Regions from separate parts of the Homo sapiens genome. Here region 2 is linked to region 1. Evidence: fine-mapped expression QTL. A gene starts in region 1. The other region holds a variant in brackets. All regions are shown on one strand. Distances are from middle to middle.

Evidence for each region. PIP is the estimated chance that this variant, and not a neighbour inherited with it, causes the effect.
Region 2: its variant is fine-mapped to the expression of CATSPERQ in T cells (TOPMed, PIP 0.98).

What each region holds. Positions count from the first base shown.
Region 1 is chr8:144,350,705-144,359,014 of GRCh38, forward strand. CATSPERQ (catsper channel auxiliary subunit theta) reads right to left here and starts at 4,227. Exons shown (of 6, transcript NM_001280561.2): 1 at 4,138-4,227; 2 at 3,913-4,063; 3 at 3,533-3,627; 4 at 3,250-3,445; 5 at 3,074-3,159; 6 at 2,524-2,823. The coding sequence starts at 4,063. The coding sequence ends at 2,644. It overlaps FBXL6 (F-box and leucine rich repeat protein 6), which reads right to left and starts at 7,768. Exons shown (of 9, transcript NM_012162.4): 1 at 7,328-7,768; 2 at 6,924-7,082; 3 at 6,735-6,798; 4 at 6,286-6,417; 5 at 6,104-6,211; 6 at 5,896-6,009; 7 at 5,596-5,827; 8 at 5,264-5,510; 9 at 4,727-4,974. The coding sequence starts at 7,743. The coding sequence ends at 4,827. SLC52A2 (solute carrier family 52 member 2) reads left to right here and starts at 7,909. Exons shown (of 5, transcript NM_001363118.2): 1 at 7,909-8,310. RefSeq lists silencers at 3,668-3,777, 7,491-7,710, 7,731-8,170 and an enhancer at 5,624-6,160.
Region 2 is chr8:144,266,322-144,274,631 of GRCh38, forward strand. The region is part of intron 3 of BOP1 (BOP1 ribosomal biogenesis factor); the gene reads right to left. SCX (scleraxis bHLH transcription factor) reads left to right here and starts at 132. Exons shown (of 2, transcript NM_001080514.3): 1 at 132-859; 2 at 1,783-2,160. The coding sequence starts at 293. The coding sequence ends at 1,821. RefSeq lists silencers at 66-255, 4,616-4,785 and enhancers at 501-1,268, 1,269-2,034, 4,680-5,323, 5,324-5,967. The variant C/T (reference allele first, on the strand shown) is at 3,989.

The sequences.
Region 1 (8,310 bases):
TCTGTTTGGGTCCTCTTCCCCCGTGGCCCCTTGTCTGCCTCTGTGTCTGATGCCAGAGCTCCATCCTTGGCCCTCCTCCTGTTCTCCCCCATCTTCTGCGTTGCCAGAGACATCTCATCTAGTGCTTTAGCTTTAGGGACCTCCCAGGGCATGATGGTTTCAGGTCTGTGCTTCCCCCTTTCCTTTCTCCCCAGGGCCTTTCTGCCTTTTCAAAATCTCCCCCACAAGGTCCTGTAAGCTCCTCAGGCCTTGTCTAATTCAGAACTCCTGACTGCCAACCCCTCTCCCCATAGCCACCAGCCCCAGTGCCCAGGCCAGACACTCTGGACTCCCGAGTCACTTTTCTTCCCAGCCCACTTCCCGCCCAGCAGCAAATCCCCTCCACGGAGCCGGAGCTCAGAACTGTCTGTGGTCCTTGCTCCTCTCTGTTCCCCTCTGCCCCTCCAGCTCCCTTTCCTCCGTGCACAATTCCTGCAGCCTCCTGGCCTTTCCCCACCGCTCCCTCCCTGGGTCTTAGTGCATATCTGCTTACAGCTCTCCAGCAGATTCCCATGGCACACAGGACTAAAGCTCTGAGCTATGGCCTCCAAGGACGCTGCCTGCCCTTCCCACCTCATCTCAGGCCTCCTTCTCCCTTGTCCTCTCTACTCTGACCAGCCCAATCCCCTTGCAGCTTCTCCAGCACACCCAGCTCAGTCCTATATCACGCCCTTGTGTTGTGTTTACTCTTTGCCCACGATGCCCTTCCCCCAAAGCTCCCCAGCCAGAGGGACCCTGCCCCTCCAACCACTCTTCATTCTGGGTCCCTCTTAGATCACCAGCTCCAGGGAGGAGGGACTTTGCCTGCCTGAGTGAAACAGAGCCCTCAACCCAAACCTAAGTTTGGTGCTGCCACTGTAGGACACCTTGAGCCCCATCTTCTGGGGAGTGGAGGTCCCTGCACTTGTGCTGTTAATGACAATTGCTTCCAGGGATTACCTAAAGCCACTTCAGTAGCCCCCAGATCCTGCCCCAGAGATGGGCCAGGGTGCCTGTGTGCCCAGTGAGTTTTGAGCAGCCTTGGGATTGGGGGTCAAGTAGAGACTCTAAGTCATGGTTCCAGGCAGAACTGGCTTCACGAGCCTGCAACCTGGGCAGTCACACAGGGCCCCAGGCTCAGAAAGGCCCCATACTTGAGTTTTTGTTGCTGTTGTTGTTGTCGTTGTCGTTTTGGGACAGAGTCTCACTCTGTCACCCAGGCTGGAGTGCAATGGCTCAATCTCCGCTCACCCGCAACCTCTGCCTCCCAGGTTCAAGCGATTCTATTCCTTCAGCCTCCCGAGTAGCTGAGATTGCAGGGATGCACCACCACACCCAGCTAATTTTATATTTTTAGTAGAGACAGGGTTTCACCATGTTGGTCGGGCTGGTCTTGAACTCCTGACCTCAGATGATCCGCCCGCCTTGGCCTCCCAAAGTGCTGGGATGACAGGCGTGAGCCACCATGCCCAGTCTATCTTGAAATTCTTAATAACTTTATTTTTATTTTTATTGTTTATTTTATTAGAGACTGGGGTCTCACTATGTTGTCCAGGCTAGCCTTGAACTCCTGGGTTTAAGCTGTCCTCCCACCTTAGCCTCCTGAGCAGCCGAGACTACAGGTATACACCACTGCACCCCACTTATTAACTTCCTAACAATGGGCTCCAAATTTTCATTTGGCATGGGACCCTGCAAATTATGTAGCTGCTCCTGGTTGCAGGGACGTTCAGCTGATAATGCCTGAAGATCCGGAGAGCCAGGTCCTGCTTTCCCTGGGACCCCATGGCCCACAGCCTTCTCGGCTTCCACAACAGCCCCCAGCACTCAGGAGGCCTCAGGTGCTGCAGTGATAGCTGGGGGATCCACTGGACAGGAGAGTGTGGGCCTGGGGTTCCAGCAGGCACAGCAAGTGGGTGTCAGGGGCGCAGGCCTGGGGTTCCAGTGGGCACGGTGAGCGGGTGTCAGGGGCGCGGGCCTGGGGTTCCAGCGGGCATGGCGAGCGGGTGTCAGGGCACTGCACATCCTCCCTCCTAGGAGGCCCTGCACCCTGGCCCGGGACTCTTGTGCCCACCCCCTTGGAGGCAAGCGGCAGCAGCTTTGTGGGTACTGGGGCAAGCATGCACCCCAGGCACAGGGCTTGTTCTCTGGCCGCACCCCACCCCATTGCTGGTTGGAGTAGCAGCAGGCACCGGGTCCAGAATGGGCCAGATTCTGACTCCTGGATTCCACGCATTGGTCAGCACCTCTGAGGTCAGGTAGGACAAGTTAAGTGCTGCTGGCTAAGAGGGGATGGAGTTCCCAGCCTCTCTAGTGATGGGCCGAACCTCAGAGGCCTGGCTATATGCCATCCCTTGCTCTCAGCTGTTCCTGTCTTCGAACACAAGCTGTGGGGTTTGCTTCAGTCAGCTGGAAGGCACAGGCTCTCTGAGGTCCTAGGAGTGCGCAACAGTGGAAGACCTAGGCACCAGAGGGCCTCCCCTGCCCCCTAAAATGATCCGTGTGGAAGCTGAGGCAGCTTTATTGAAAGGAAGGCCAGTGAGTGGGACTCACATTTGATCTGCCCCAGAGTGGGGCTGGGAGGTTACCGAGAACACAGTCCCGAGGTGGGGGAGGCCCTCAGAGTCACACCTCCAGGCTGGACTGAGAGGAGCTGGGCTTGTGACCCATGGGGCTCTTGCCCATCACAGTGCCAGCGCCAGGGGGTGGCCAGTGGCGAACCACGTGCCGGTAGGAGGTGGCCAGGTAGTCGAAGTAGTTGATGTTGAGTTTCCGGGCGATGTAACGGCCCAAGTATTCCATTTGCTGTGGGAGCAGGTGGCGCTCAACTGGGGCCGGGACAGGACAGACCCGAGTCGCCGTCCAGGCGTCTCCTTCCCCTACCAGGCTGCATCCCCCGTCCTGCCCGAAGCCCCGGCGCCCTCTCCACGGCCCCCAGCACCGAAGACCGTGTTGTATTTACCCTCTGCGTGCGGAAACGGCCCCACCCAAAGACCTTAAACAGTGATCGGTGTCATCGTGTCCTGAGGAGGGCGCGTGTCTGGGCGGGACCCACCTCGTAGTGCTCCGACAGCTGCACCAGCACCAGGGGCTCCAACCTGTGGCCGCCGAGGACCAGGTGGAAGAAGCACCTTCCGTGGGCTGCGGGGAGAGCGGACTTAGCCAGCCTGGCCGCCCCTCCGACCTCCCAAGCTGCCTCCCCGTCCCTGGCGCACCCTCCCGGCCCGTTACCATCGGAGCTGAGCGCCAGGCGCACGTAGACCAGATGCAAGGGGCCCTGGCACACGGTGCGGCCCTGGATGGAGAAGTGGTACACGCCGCGCGTGTGGTTCAGCACCAGGCGGCGCCGCGGCAGCGACGAGATCACGAGCCACAGGCCCACGCCCACGCCGTACACGAGGAAGACCCAGGTCTCTTGCTTCTGCACCTGCGGGCGCCACGCGGAGAGTCTGAGCGGCGCGGGGCCGGCCCTCAGGGGAGGAGGGCGGTGGGGGTCGGGCCCAGGGGCTCACACCTCTCTCAGGGAGCTGAAGCTGACCAGGACCACGCTGATGATGAAGAGCAGCATCCCCTTCCACAGTGTGTCCAGGTAGTATTCGAGCACGAAGACTGGGGGTGGCGCGGCGCGTGAGGACGCCCCGGCCCTGCCCGCAGCCGGGGGTGGCGGTGCCAAGGCTTGGCCCGGACTAGCTGGGTCCGCGCAGGGCTCGCGGAGGCGACGTCTCGCCTGCGGCCTCTCCGTCCCCAGGAGCACCGGCCGGCCCCACCCAGGGCCCTGGCCCTGCCTCTGCCCACCTGGCTCCGCCCCATTCAGGCCTCGGGCCCGTCTCCCTCCTCCCCCGCCCCGCCCTTCCCAGCCCCGCCCCGCCCCGCCCCGCCCAGCCTCGCGCGCACCGTTTGGCTCCTGCTGCACGAATGGGTAGAAGCTATTGTTCTTGAGGCGTCTGGCCAGGTGGCGCTCCGGGCAGGTGAGTCCTAGGAACCAGAGCTGGAAGCGCCAGCCGATGGAGGTCGTGGGCAGGCTGCCGGCCCGGCCCTTAGGCATCTGAGTCAGGCAGAGGTGGTCAGCCTGGCCGCTCGTCCGCTGCCGCCGCCCACTGCCCACAGCGGCACTCCTACCTCGGTGAGCAAATTCTCCAGGGCTGCAGGCCCAGGAAGGAGCAGGAGCTCACAGGCGACTGACAGGGCAGCGAGGCCAGGGAGCGGCCCAGGGTGGACCGCGGATGGGTTCTAGAAGTTCTGGGCAGGTTCTAGAAGGGGCTGCTCTGTTGACCACCTCTTAGGGAGTCCAGGGTGAGGTCCTGCGGTAGGCATTAACTTCTTGGCCAGTCCATCCACTGGAGGCCCCCTGTATGGCCTGTTCACAGTCCCCATGTGAAGGGTGGATGGGTGGACACCCTAGGCCTGAGCTGGAGAGAAATTTGCAGGCGGCGACCACTCAGTGAGCCCCACAGCTGGGCGGGGCCCCACCCCCTCCCACCCCCCACCCACATGCAACCACAGACAAGCTCACCAGTGTCCCCGAGGACGGAACACACACACTGGACCCAGCAGTGGGCAGGCAAAGGCATGGCCACCTGCAGGCTCAAGAGCCCATGGGACCACCCTGACCCCACAACACACAGGCTCTGGGCCGGCTGTAGCCCCAGTGGCTCCATCAGGTATAACCTGTTGCCCAACCCTACCCTGAGGACCACACACACAGAACTCCTAAAAATGTTTTATTTTAACAAAATGCTCAAATATCTGAAATTGGGCAAAGGTGGAGGGTGGGCAAGCTGGCTGAGGTGTCCCAGGTCTGTGGCTGCCTAGCTGGGTGAGGGGCTGGTGAGCAGCTGCTCCAGACACCACTGGACTTCCTCCAGGCCCCGGTAGGCCCGCTTCAGACCCCGGGGAAGGCAGCGGCAGGACTCCAGGTTGAGGTAGAGCAGGCCCGGGCAGCCGCTGATCACAGAGCTGTGGGGAGGGCAGACCACAGGAAGTTGAGCTGTTGCCTCAGAAGGGCTGGGCCAGGCTAGGGAGCTGTGCCTGCTGGTGTTCGACACCTGGCTCTGCCACCCATAGCCACCAAGGCCAAGCCCAGTTCCCCTGGTGTCCTCAGGCCCACCCCACGCAGGGGCTTGGACAGTATGCATGCCCCTCTGACCCCTGGAGGTCTCAGGCCAGGCAGGACACAACTTCCAGGCCCCAGGCAGACACAGTGACAGCCACACTGGCTCCAGGGACTGGGGTAGGGGATGCTGACCTGACAGTGCTTGGTGTGACCCGGGTGCCCCTGAGGTTAAGAGAGCACAGGGCTGGGTGTGAGCCCCCAGGGGTGCTTAAGAAGGCAGCCAGGGCCTGCTCCAGGTCCTTCTCACTGAACCCCTGGCCACTCAAGTCCAGTTCTCGCAGTGTATGGCACCACTTCTGGGTCAAAAAGGGGCTGCCCTCCTTGGCTAGAGTCAGCCGGTCTGACGTGCCATACAGGCCCAGATGAAGCTGCTCCAGCTCTGCAGTGAAAGGAGTGAGCATAAGCTACAAGGTGACAAGGGCCCCCACACCTCACCCGCCCGGCCACCACCCAGGACTGCTGACCCCGACATGGCAGATCCTGAAGGCCAGCCGGCGTGATGCGCGCACAGCCACGAAGATCCAGTAAGCGCAGGTTGGGAGAGCCGTGGAGTAGGCGGCCCAGGACCTCGTTGCTCACAAAGTTGCAGGTTGAGCTCGCCAGGCAGAGCTCCTCTAGGCTAGGGAAGCCTGGTCCGGGAGCCACCCCTCGTCCCGGAGGCTTGGGCAGCCACATCAGGTTCAACAGCCGCAGCACCTGGGGGCAAGGTCCAGGCTGTAGATGGGGGAGGGTGTGACAGGTGGGAGAGGCAGGGCGCCAGGTACCTGGAGCTGAGGGCAGCCTTTCTGCAGAGCCTCGACAGGCAGCTGAAGGGGAATGCTATTACGGTTGATGCCGGTGCTCACCTCCAGGACCTGGAGCTGGGGGCAGCAGCTGCCCTGCAGAGATGGGGGGAGGGGGTAGGTCACAGGGTCAGTGGCCTGGCAGTCCCCAGCTCAGCATCTGCCTCTGCTCCCACCAATGCCAACTTACCAGCAGTGCGCCCAGGATGGCTGTCGTCTGGGAGCTGTAGGTCAGCCACAACTTGCGCATTCGGGACCCTGCCTCCTCCAAGAAGCTCACCACAGCTGTGGACTCCACCTGGGGCCCCAATACAAGAGCACCCGTCACCCCGGCCTGGGTTTTTTCAGGGCCCCTTGGGACACAGGGCTCACCATGGAGTGCTGTAGGTCCAGGCTATGGAGCTGGCAGCAGGCTTTGGCTAGCATGACCAGAGCGTCAGCAGTCACACCGTGGCAGCCGGAGAGCTTGAGGAAAGTGAGCCGAGGACAGCACTCACCTACCAGCTGCGGGGAGACAGAGGGGCAGCTGGGGTTGGGAGACGACAGGCTAAGATCCACAAGGGAAACAGACAAGTGGCTGGTGCCAACCCCACTCTACCGCCTTAGCTGTGACCTCCTTTCTGCCCATGCCAGGCCTACTTGGGTGTCCCCGCCTCTGATACCTCCCTGCTGGAGGAAACAGCAGGAAAAGAGAACCAGGCAGGCAGGCAGACATCCCCACGGAGCAGCGTTGGGCCCCCAAGGTGCCTGACCCACTTCCTAGAGTACTGAACAGTCCCAGAGTGTCACAGCTGATGTGCAGGACAGCCTGGAGCTCTCACCTTCAACACGGGGTGTACCTGAGACTTCCAGTGGATGAGGGTCAGCCTCTGGAGCTGTGAAAACCTGGGCCGACAGCGGAGGCAGAGCTGCACTAATGTTCCCACACGAGTCCTTCCCACCCAACACCTTGGTGCAGGGAGACGGAAGGAGCCTGGAGCCAGGGGTAAGGAAGAGAGGGAACCCCTCACCGATTGGGCATAAGCCACTCCAGGGAAGCAAGGAGCTTCTTCTCCGCCTTGACCCCGCCCTTGGCAGGCCGGCCGACCAGCGGGGACGACAGGGTCACGGTGTGCCAGAGCGCGGGTTGGGAAGCGGCCTCCTGCCAGCGGCGGCACACGCGCGCAGCCCTGGGAGGACAGCGTGCTGAGGGTGCCGGCCCCTCCGTAGGCGATGCCCCCCTCTCGCAGCGCAGTAGACACCCCGGCTCAAAGCCGGGCTCCTGGGACTCCAACTGGGCGCCTAAGGGGCTGCGCTCTCGGACTGAGCGGTGCGCGCTCCGATGCTTTCGCCCTCCGCCCCCGCCCGGGCCACCGCTCGGACCACGTCTGGCCCAAGCCGCTACGCTCGGCGGCGGGCCCGGCACCAGCGTTACCTGCCCAGGAAGGGCATGGGGCCGTCCGCCGCCACCAACAACCCGAAAATCTGCACCAGGATTTCCAAGGGAATGCGGTCTCCCCAGCCCGCGTCGGGCCCTTCCTCGGGCGTGGGCGTGGGTGCCGGTGCGGGTGCGGGCGCGGCCGCCGCCTCGGACCTGAGCCCGGCCTTGGGCTTGGCCGCGGCGCTGGGGCCCCGGGGCGGCTGCCGGGGAGTGCGGCGGGAAGCGCGCCGCTGTGCGCGGGGCCGGGCGGGGCCGGGTTCGGACAGCACCAGCAGCATGCTGTCGGACTGCAGCAGGTGGTACCCCGAGCCCCTCGGCGCCAGCCGGTCCCACCACCAGTCCTCGGCCGAGCGGGGCCGCGGCGCTGCCCGGGCTCTGCGTCGGACCTGCCGGGAGGCTGGGGCAGCCATGACCACCGACGGCGCTCGGGGAAGCCCCAGGGAGCGGAACGGGCGAGGCTTATAGACCGACAACCCCCCGGTTCCTCTCAACGCCCGCCCGCCCGCCGACCAGCTTCCGGGGCGGGACTTCCGGTCGTGGGCCATGCCGGGGGCGGGCCCGGAACCGCCACGGGTGAGTCGGGTCGTGGCTGCTGCCGGGTCCTGCGCGCTCCGGACTGAGGTGGCGTCCCTGGGCCGGACGGCGGTGTCCCGGCGTGGCGGGAAGCCGGCACTGGAGCGGGAGCGCACTGGGCGCGGGACCGGGAGGCGCAGGGACCGGACGGCTCCCGAGTCGCCCACCTGACGGTACCGAGAGGGCGGCGCCCCTCCGAGCAGAGCCGTCCCGGCCACTCCCCTGGGATCTGACTTGGCTCTTGCGGTCGCGGGCACCGTGAAGCCCTGGGGTGTGCGTGGCTCCTCCTGGTAGGCGCCCTTTCCCGGCGTCCGGCTTGGGGTGGTGGTGGCGTTGACTCCAGCCCCGCCTCTCCCTGGAGAGGAGGGCTCCACTCGCTCCTTCGGCCTCCTCCCCTGGGGCCG
Region 2 (8,310 bases), 84 kb before region 1:
AAAGCGTGGCCACAGAAGGCCGAGGGACGCGGCGGGCGCTGCTCGAGGAGCCTCCGGGCTGAGAGGGGCGGGGCGTGCGCGGGGGAGGGGCCGGGACGCCGCTATAAAGGCGCAGCTCGGGGCCCCGCTCCGGCCCGGGACGCACATGTGCGCGCGACGCCCGGCAGCTGCCACCGCGGGGCGCAGCCGAGACCCCGCGCCTCGCCCCGGCCGGCCCGCGAGGCCCGCGGCGGCCGCAGGAGGCGGCATGAGCAGCGCGCGACAGAGCTGACGCCGCGCCCCCGCCGGCCCCATGTCCTTCGCCACGCTGCGCCCGGCGCCGCCGGGCCGCTACCTGTACCCCGAGGTGAGCCCGCTGTCGGAGGACGAGGACCGCGGCAGCGACAGCTCGGGCTCCGACGAGAAACCCTGTCGCGTGCACGCGGCGCGCTGCGGCCTCCAGGGCGCCCGGCGGAGGGCGGGGGGCCGGCGGGCCGGGGGCGGGGGGCCAGGGGGCCGGCCAGGCCGTGAGCCCCGGCAGCGGCACACGGCGAACGCGCGCGAGCGAGACCGCACCAACAGCGTGAACACGGCCTTCACGGCGCTGCGCACGCTGATCCCCACCGAGCCCGCCGACCGCAAGCTCTCCAAGATTGAGACGCTGCGCCTGGCCTCCAGCTACATCTCGCACCTGGGCAACGTGCTGCTGGCGGGCGAGGCCTGCGGCGACGGACAGCCCTGCCACTCCGGGCCCGCCTTCTTCCACGCGGCGCGCGCCGGCAGCCCCCCGCCGCCGCCCCCGCCGCCTCCCGCCCGCGACGGCGAGAACACCCAGCCCAAACAGATCTGCACCTTCTGCCTCAGCAACCAGAGAAAGTTGGTGAGCACGGGCCGTGGGGCGCCGAGGGGGGCCTCCAACGCGCCCCTCAGCCCACACCTGCCAGGCAGAGGAGGCGAGGCCACACGGGCAGGGCTCCCCAACAGGGCACAGGCAGGCACACCTGTAACACAGGCCTGCCGGGGGCTGGGGCCTTCTCCTGGGGCTCCTCTCCAGGGCGTCCCTAGGACACTCGGCTCCCAGTGGAGTGTGGAGTCCCCTGCAGGGAGCTGCATGAGGGGTAAGAGCTAGGGATGGCCAAAGGGGCCCACCCAGGGCGGGGAGGCTGGGGAGCTGGACCAGGCCGCTGCAAGCTTCCCTTTTCAGTAAGTTGAAAGGCGGAGTGAAAACAGCTGAGTTCAGAAAGTAAGAGGCTGCAAGGCAAGAGAGGAAGGACCCCGGGTTCTTAGCCCCTGCGGCCCAGCACTGGCTTAAGCCATCTTGGGCACCTGCTGTCCGTCCCCCACCTAGGCCGCACACCAAGACACCAGGTCCTGTAGGGCTGCCCGAGACGTGGGCCATGGGACACGAAGGCAGAGGCTGGCAGGAGATGTGGGGGCTGGGGGTGAGGGCCCCTGCAGGAGACGCTGGCCAGCTGTGATTTACAGCTCCTGCTGTGCTTGGTGGCACCGGAAAAGCAGGGTGAGCAGGGAGAAAATACGGCACGGCTTTTCCCAATCCCCATTTCCTCTCCAGACAGCACGCGCGAGCTCCTGGGGCCTGAACATCTGGGAAATTTAATTTTACAATTTCGGCTGTGCAGCAGTATGCTCCCCTCCCCAAAACGCTTGAGGGAAGCTGGGGAGAGCCGGGAAGGAGGTGCCTTGGCGCTGGCCACCTGAGATGGCACCCAGCAGGGAGGCCAGAGAGGCGCAGACTGGCGCTGGGCTCTGCCGGGGCCTGACACTCCTCCCTCCCCTCTGCAGAGCAAGGACCGCGACAGAAAGACAGCGATTCGCAGTTAGGAGGTGGCCGGCAGCAGCCAGGAGGCAGACGCTGCTGGGGGAGGTGGACGCCCGGGGTGACTGCAGACAGCCCCCACCTTGGACCTGAGCTGGGCAAGGCCCACCGCAAGCATGCCCCCAGGCCAGCCCTGGCTGCGAGCGGGGCCGAGGGACAGACGGACGTACAGACAGGCGCCGGCAGCGGGACTCTGCGCTGGCCCCAGCACCTGCCCGGGCCCACTGGAACTTTCTGCGCTGGCTTTTCTTCCGGCCACTGTGTGATGGCATCTTGTGTTTTTGATATGATAATATAAAGTCTGAAAATTTTGTATAATTAAAAACAAAACAGTATCTTCCAAATATGGAGGCCAACTGTCCTCATGAAAGGTTCAGAATCCACCCCCAGCCCCCAGCCTGAGCCTCCATTCCCACCCTTGGTGGTCCCATCCTCCTTGGGCCAAGTACCCCGGCTCCCTGGGAAGCCCCCACTTTCCAGGCTCAGGGCCACCCCTCCCTGGGCTGAGGCGGTGAGGATGGGCTTAGCTCACCCACAGAGCCTCATATCGGGAAGCTGTGGGGTGGGGACAAGGGAGCCACGCCGGGAGAGAGGGTGGGGGAGGAGCTGCGTGGCAGAAGATGGGGAGGGCGAGGCACAAGGCAGGGACGCTGTAAGGCAGGGACAGGGAGGCAGCGGCAGGGACAGAGGCAGCAGCAGGGCAAGGGTGCCCCCGACTCGGGCCTGTCGGGCACCCGGGGGCCCTGAGGGTGAGGAGGGCGCTGCAGGTGGCCACAAGGAGTGGAGCGAGCTGTGCTGCCCAGCGGAGGGGGGGGCTCCCAGCCCCAGCGAGGGCAGTGGGTGTCCTGCCTCCACGAGCCTTGACTGGAGAGAGGGGCATCTCCTCATGCACCAGTGCCACTTGGCCCCTGGAAGCACTGCCCACGTGGGAAGGAGGACCCCTGGCCATCCTCCTCCCACCACCACGGCCCATCCAGCCCCCTGAAGACCCCGCCCACCACAGGAGGTGGGTTTAGCCCCCACAGTGCTCTGTGCACAGCTGGCTGGCCATTAAAACCCTGCAGGTGACAATTACCATTGAGTGGTGTGAGATCAGTGGGCACAGAGAGAAGAAGGGCGGTGCTGTGTGGACCACCTCCCCCCAACCCTGCCAGGCCACAGCCTAACTTCCGGCTGGGTGGACAATGGCTGATGGTGCCAGGTGCGGGCGTCAGGGCGGCGGCCGGCCCCAGTTCCCCGCTAGCACAGGCAGGGACGCACCCTCGGGGGGAGACCAGGTGCTGTGGCCCACGTGGGCATCGGTGCAGGGCTGGCCCAGGACTGCCCCTCCTCTGCAAAGACAGGCTCCAGGGAATGGCGGAGCAGGAAGCAGTGGTGTAATTTTGGAGGAAATTCTCAAAGCCAGAGCCATTAAGGGCTAGAGGGGGGCTGAGTCCAATCTGATAGAAATATAACAGGATAAAAAGTCACAACGGCAGGTTTCGTTCAGAGAGAAACCCAACCCCAAATTTCCTCTCCCTAATCCTGCAGGAGCCCACAGCTGGCCAGAGGGAGGGGAGGAGAGGACAAGCTCAGTCACTGCAGAAGCCTCCGCCCGCCGGGAAGCCAGGGCCCGGGGGACACGGACATGCAGCTAGGGGCTGACGCAGCCCCTTCCCTTCTTGGGAGCTTTCCTCACACCCCCGCCCCGCCACCCTCCCAGGCACCAAGGCGCTGGTGAGTGAGGAGCAGGGTGGACCCAGGAGCATGGCCAGGCCGGGCACTCTGCATAGCACCCTAAGGCCCACGGCGCCCACGCCAGCCCTCCCTCCACTGGGCACTGGGTGTAGTTCTGTAGGGAGGGTCCATAGCCCACCTACCCCTCACCTCCAGGCCTCCCATTTCCAGACCTGGGCCTAGTGGGGGTTGCAAACCTCCACATGAACCCCCAACCTCAGTGGCCGGTCAACGTTGGGGACAAATGGGATGGAAGATAGTGAAAGTCTCCAGGGCAGGGACATCAGGGGCTGCTGGCCTGAGCGGGCAGGTGCGGGGCGTCGGCGGCCGGCACCAAGGACAGGGCAGAGCCAGCTCAGAGCGGGAATGCAGGAGGCCAGACAGGAGCAGGTGGGAAGGTGCGGGCCAGCATGGGGAGGTCTGGGCAGGGTCAAGAGGGAGTGCAGGGGAAAGAGA[C/T]GTCAGAGCCCCCGTGGACTGGGGTCAGAGTTTGGGGTGTCTAACGAGGCTAGAAGAAAGTGAACAGGGAACAACGACCTGGAGGCCTCGGAGCTGAAAGGATCCCCAGGGCCCTGCTGGTTGGGGTGCAGCACTCACAGCCAAGCCCTCCGCTGCGGGCCTGACTCCGACCGCGGCTGCAGCTTGGCCAGCCTCAGGCCTGGGCAGCCAGCCCAGCCGCTCCCTGAGCTGCACCGGTAGCAGCGGCCGAGGGCCCGGCCCGCCAGCCAGCAAGAGGGGAGGGGCGGGGGAGGAACACTCCGTCACCCTCCACTGCTCCAGAAATTCAAACCAGACCGGGGGTGGCGTGGGCTGACCCCCAGGCCTGCGGCAGCCCACCCGAATCCACTCGTAGCTCACAGCCGCCGGGCAGACGAGTGGCAGGTGCTCCCTGCCCACCACAGCCCCTGGCTCCCTTCCCAGAGTGCTGGCCTCACCTCCACAGAGACCCAGGGCTCCCTCCGCCTGTGCCCCACAGAGGCAGCTGGGACGGAAGGGGCCCCAGCCTGCACCCTGGGCCAGCAGCCGCCCCTGCGAGCCGAGCTGGGCTGGAAACGCTCTGCTGGGCCTCAGCTGTCAGCTCCTGTCCCCGGCCTGGGGAACGAGCTGCTGGCGGGACACATGATTCATCACGGTCGCCTGCGCCCACCACCCGCCCCGCCCAGCGCAGCACCTGCGGGCTGCCAGGAAACACATGTGACCCCTCCGGGTCAGGCCCCGCACGGAGAGCCCCGGCCGGCCGGCCGGGGGCACACACAGACCCAGCATCAGGGCTCTCCTGGGGGCCGCCCAGCCCCAAGGACAGGCCCCCAGCCCAGACTGCACCGGACACAGGCCGCAACCGGCTGATGTGTCGGCTGGGATTTTTCCGCTCTCGATGAGCCCCCTTCCCTCCCCCTCCCCAAAGTGGCTGCAGCTGTCAGGACCACAGATTGGAACTGCAGGTATGGGGCTGGCCCGCTGCCCGCCTCCTCCCGTGTCTGTCTGCGAGAGAGGAAGCCGGCCCACCTCTGGAATCCTTCACTCTCTCCTCGTTCCGCCTCTCCCACCTGTCCCCCGGGAGCGTGGGGTCAGCCGCCCTCGCTCCGTCTCTCTCTTCCCCAGCCCCTCTCCGATTACAATGCGGGTAGTGTTCAGCGTTCGCGCCGCTCCCCTGCACAAAACGCCCGCCTGTCTCGGAGCGCCACACGGCCTTCCTGTGCGACGTGAGGCCGCCTCCTCTTCCTCAGGGTTTTATCTGTTGAAGTGCTCAGGGCAAGGCCAGGGCGGGAGGCTCACCTGCTGCATCTCACCCTACTGAAGGTTCCAGCAGGGGTGCTGGGCCCTGGCGCCGGGGCCAGAGGGGAGAAAGCCAGGTCCTGCTTAGTCTCCTCCTCCTCAAAGTCCAAACCAGCTGAGCGAACCCCCAGCCCAAGGTGGGGCCCCAGGCAGGAGGAGCCACCAGCCCAGACGCCCTCAGCTCCGGCCCGGCTCCCGCCAACCACGCATCTGCCCTTCTAGAGGCTGGGCACACAGCTCGGCCTTCTCCCGGCACCTCCACCACTGGAGAGAAGCCACTACTGACCCAGGGGTCCTTGCACCTCCACAGCTGGGAGGGCAGCAAGTCACCTCCTGGGGGTCTGCAGGCTGGAGAGAAGCCACTACCGACCCAGGGGTTCCTCCAGACCTGGCCTGCCTCGGTCTCTGCTGGGGCTGACCCAGGGACAATAGCTGTTCCCAGGCAGAGCACCCCAACGCCTGGCATCTCATAAGCAGGGGCTCCCAGAAACCAGGATGCTAGGGGTGGGGCACAGGCTTGGGGCATGACACCCCAAACACCCCCCACCGACACCCACCAGTGCTCACCCCTCCTCGGCCTGCTCTGAGCCCCACAACTCAGAGCTACAACTTCCAGGTGGGGTGGGGACAGGGCTCTAGAGGTCCACACCCGCTCAGCCCCCAACTCCGGACACCTCCAAAATCTCATTCTGGAGACTTTTCCCCCAGTCCTGATCCGTGCACACACACGTACCTGGGACTCCCGTCCCCTGCAGAACAGCCCCGGCCTTGGGACGTACACCCAGACCCAGCTCTCCCCAGCCGGCCTCCCCAGAGGGCCCAGAGCCTGCAGCCGTCACCACCTGCCCAACAGACCTTGCCCTCCAATGCCTTCCCCGGCTCCACTCCACAGGCTGCTCTGCCAGCCCCAGGGCAAAGCCTCCGCTCAAGAGCCCTGTAGAGCACCCCCCGCTGCCCACCCGGGTTCCAGCTGCCAAGGACACTGGCCCCGAGTGGGCACAGCAGGCCAGGGCCCCCACCACCCTTGCAGCCCACAAGCAGGAGGACGCGGCTCTGAAGAGGCCACTCCCACCTACCAGCCACTGCCCAGCCCTGCTTCATCCGAGAGCCCAGGGTACCCCCATGAGGGCCCTGGCTTCCCTGCCCCTCATCACTGACCCCAGGGTCTCTCCTCTCCCAAACCGGACAACTGAGTGCAGCAGGCCAGGCCTAGGAGGGCCTTCAAGCCGGCCAAGGGGCACGCGGCAGTCAGGCTACACACACCCACCCACAGCCTGGGTAGCAGGGCGCGCCCGTTTCCCTCCTCAGTGGAAAGGGACCAGACCCGAGGGCCAGCCCCAGCCCAGTCAGCAGCCCCCTCGGAGGCAGGCATGCAGGCGGCCGCGGGGGTGGATGGCCGCCAGGGAGATTGGGGCGGTCTGCAGGCCCGGGCGCCCTCCACAAGCAGCGTGGGGAGGGCCGTTCGCTCGCCGGGAAACCTGAGCCGAGGCCGCGCCGCCAGCAGCGACGCAAGCCTGAGTGCGCGGGGCCAGGACGCGGGGGCGGGGGCGGCCCGGAGGAGCGGAGGCCGCCAGCACTGGAGGCAGCTGCCGGTTCAGTAGCTGGGAGAAGCCATTAACGGCGCTTGGCGCGAGAGCAGAGGGGACCACGGGCTCTGGACGCAGACAGGCCCGGCTGCATCCCTGCGGGAACCTGACTCACAGCCCAGGCAGGGTCAGGGGCACCGAGGAGCTGCCAGGCTGCACCCCAGCCCCAGACTCCAGACTCCAGTGGAGGCCTCGTGGGGGACGGCCCCAGGCCAGCACCACGGGGCACAGGAAAGGGACAGCAGAGGGCGGCTCCTCCGGCCAGAGTGGACGGCCACCCAGATCCCTCAGCCTGCTACGCTTTCCTGACAAACACGGCCACAGGCAGGGGGAGGGTGGGTGGCTGCATCCTCTGCCTGAGCAGCCACCCGGCCTCAGTTTCTCCCAACCGCTCAAATCAAAGCGGAGGGGCTGCTTCGGCAAAGGCCGAGAGCCCCCTTGCCCCGCCCCTCCACCCCGGCCCACCTCCCCGGGGGTCCCAGCGGCTGGATGAGATCACGTCTGTGAAGCTCCAGGCGCGGTGGGAGAGGGGTGAGGTGGCCATGCGGGGGCGGGGCAGCCGCAGCTCAGCCGGCTCCTGGGGGCCCCCCACTGCCGGCGGCAGGACCCCAGCCAGGCCCAGCGCCTCCTCCAGGGGCTCCGCCCGCCTCCCTCCGCCTGCTCGCTGCTGCCTGCGCACCTGGGGGAGGGGAATAAGACACCAAGAGCTGGAGTACAGCTCTCCTGTGAGGGGCTGCTCAGGTCTTCAAAAGTCAGCGTCCAGCAGGGGGTCCCTGAAGCCCCAGTGTCATCCAGGTCCAGGCCCTGGATCCAGACCCAGGAAGGGCAGGGAAGTGGCCTGAGGAGAAGGGGAGGTAGGTGGGCAGGGGGTGGCAGGGAGGCACCTCCCACCAGCAGGAGCTTGGCCCGAGACCTTCTCAGCATCACAGCCACTGCCACCCACGCGCTCCAGCTGAGATCGCCGCTCGCAGGAGCACACGCCCCAGCGGCGCCCTCCCTGCCCTGCTACCAGGGGCCCTCTCCACAGCCCTGAAGGGCCCCGGCAGTGAGGTCGGCCCTCTCTCAGCCAGCTCTGCCCAGTGCCGAGGAGGACCATGGTCCTGGTGCCACGGCCACCTCCAAGGACACGGGGCTGCCTGACGGGCCCTGCTCTCCTCACCCCACTGTCTCATGGGAGAGCTGCAGGCTGTCTCCCACCTCCCAAGCCTCTTTCCTGCCCACCTGTGGCCCCAAATCACTCCCCTAGGGCCACCCCACTTTGCTCCAAGGGAACAGAGGCCCAGGCAGATGCGCACTTCTCTGGACGGGAGGCATCTGTCCGGGCCTGGCCTGGCTCCTGAAAGCTGAGCTCTGCCGCCCCCTCGAGCCACTGGCCGGCTGTGCTGGCAGGAGCACCGGGCAGCACCCGGGCTCCCTCGC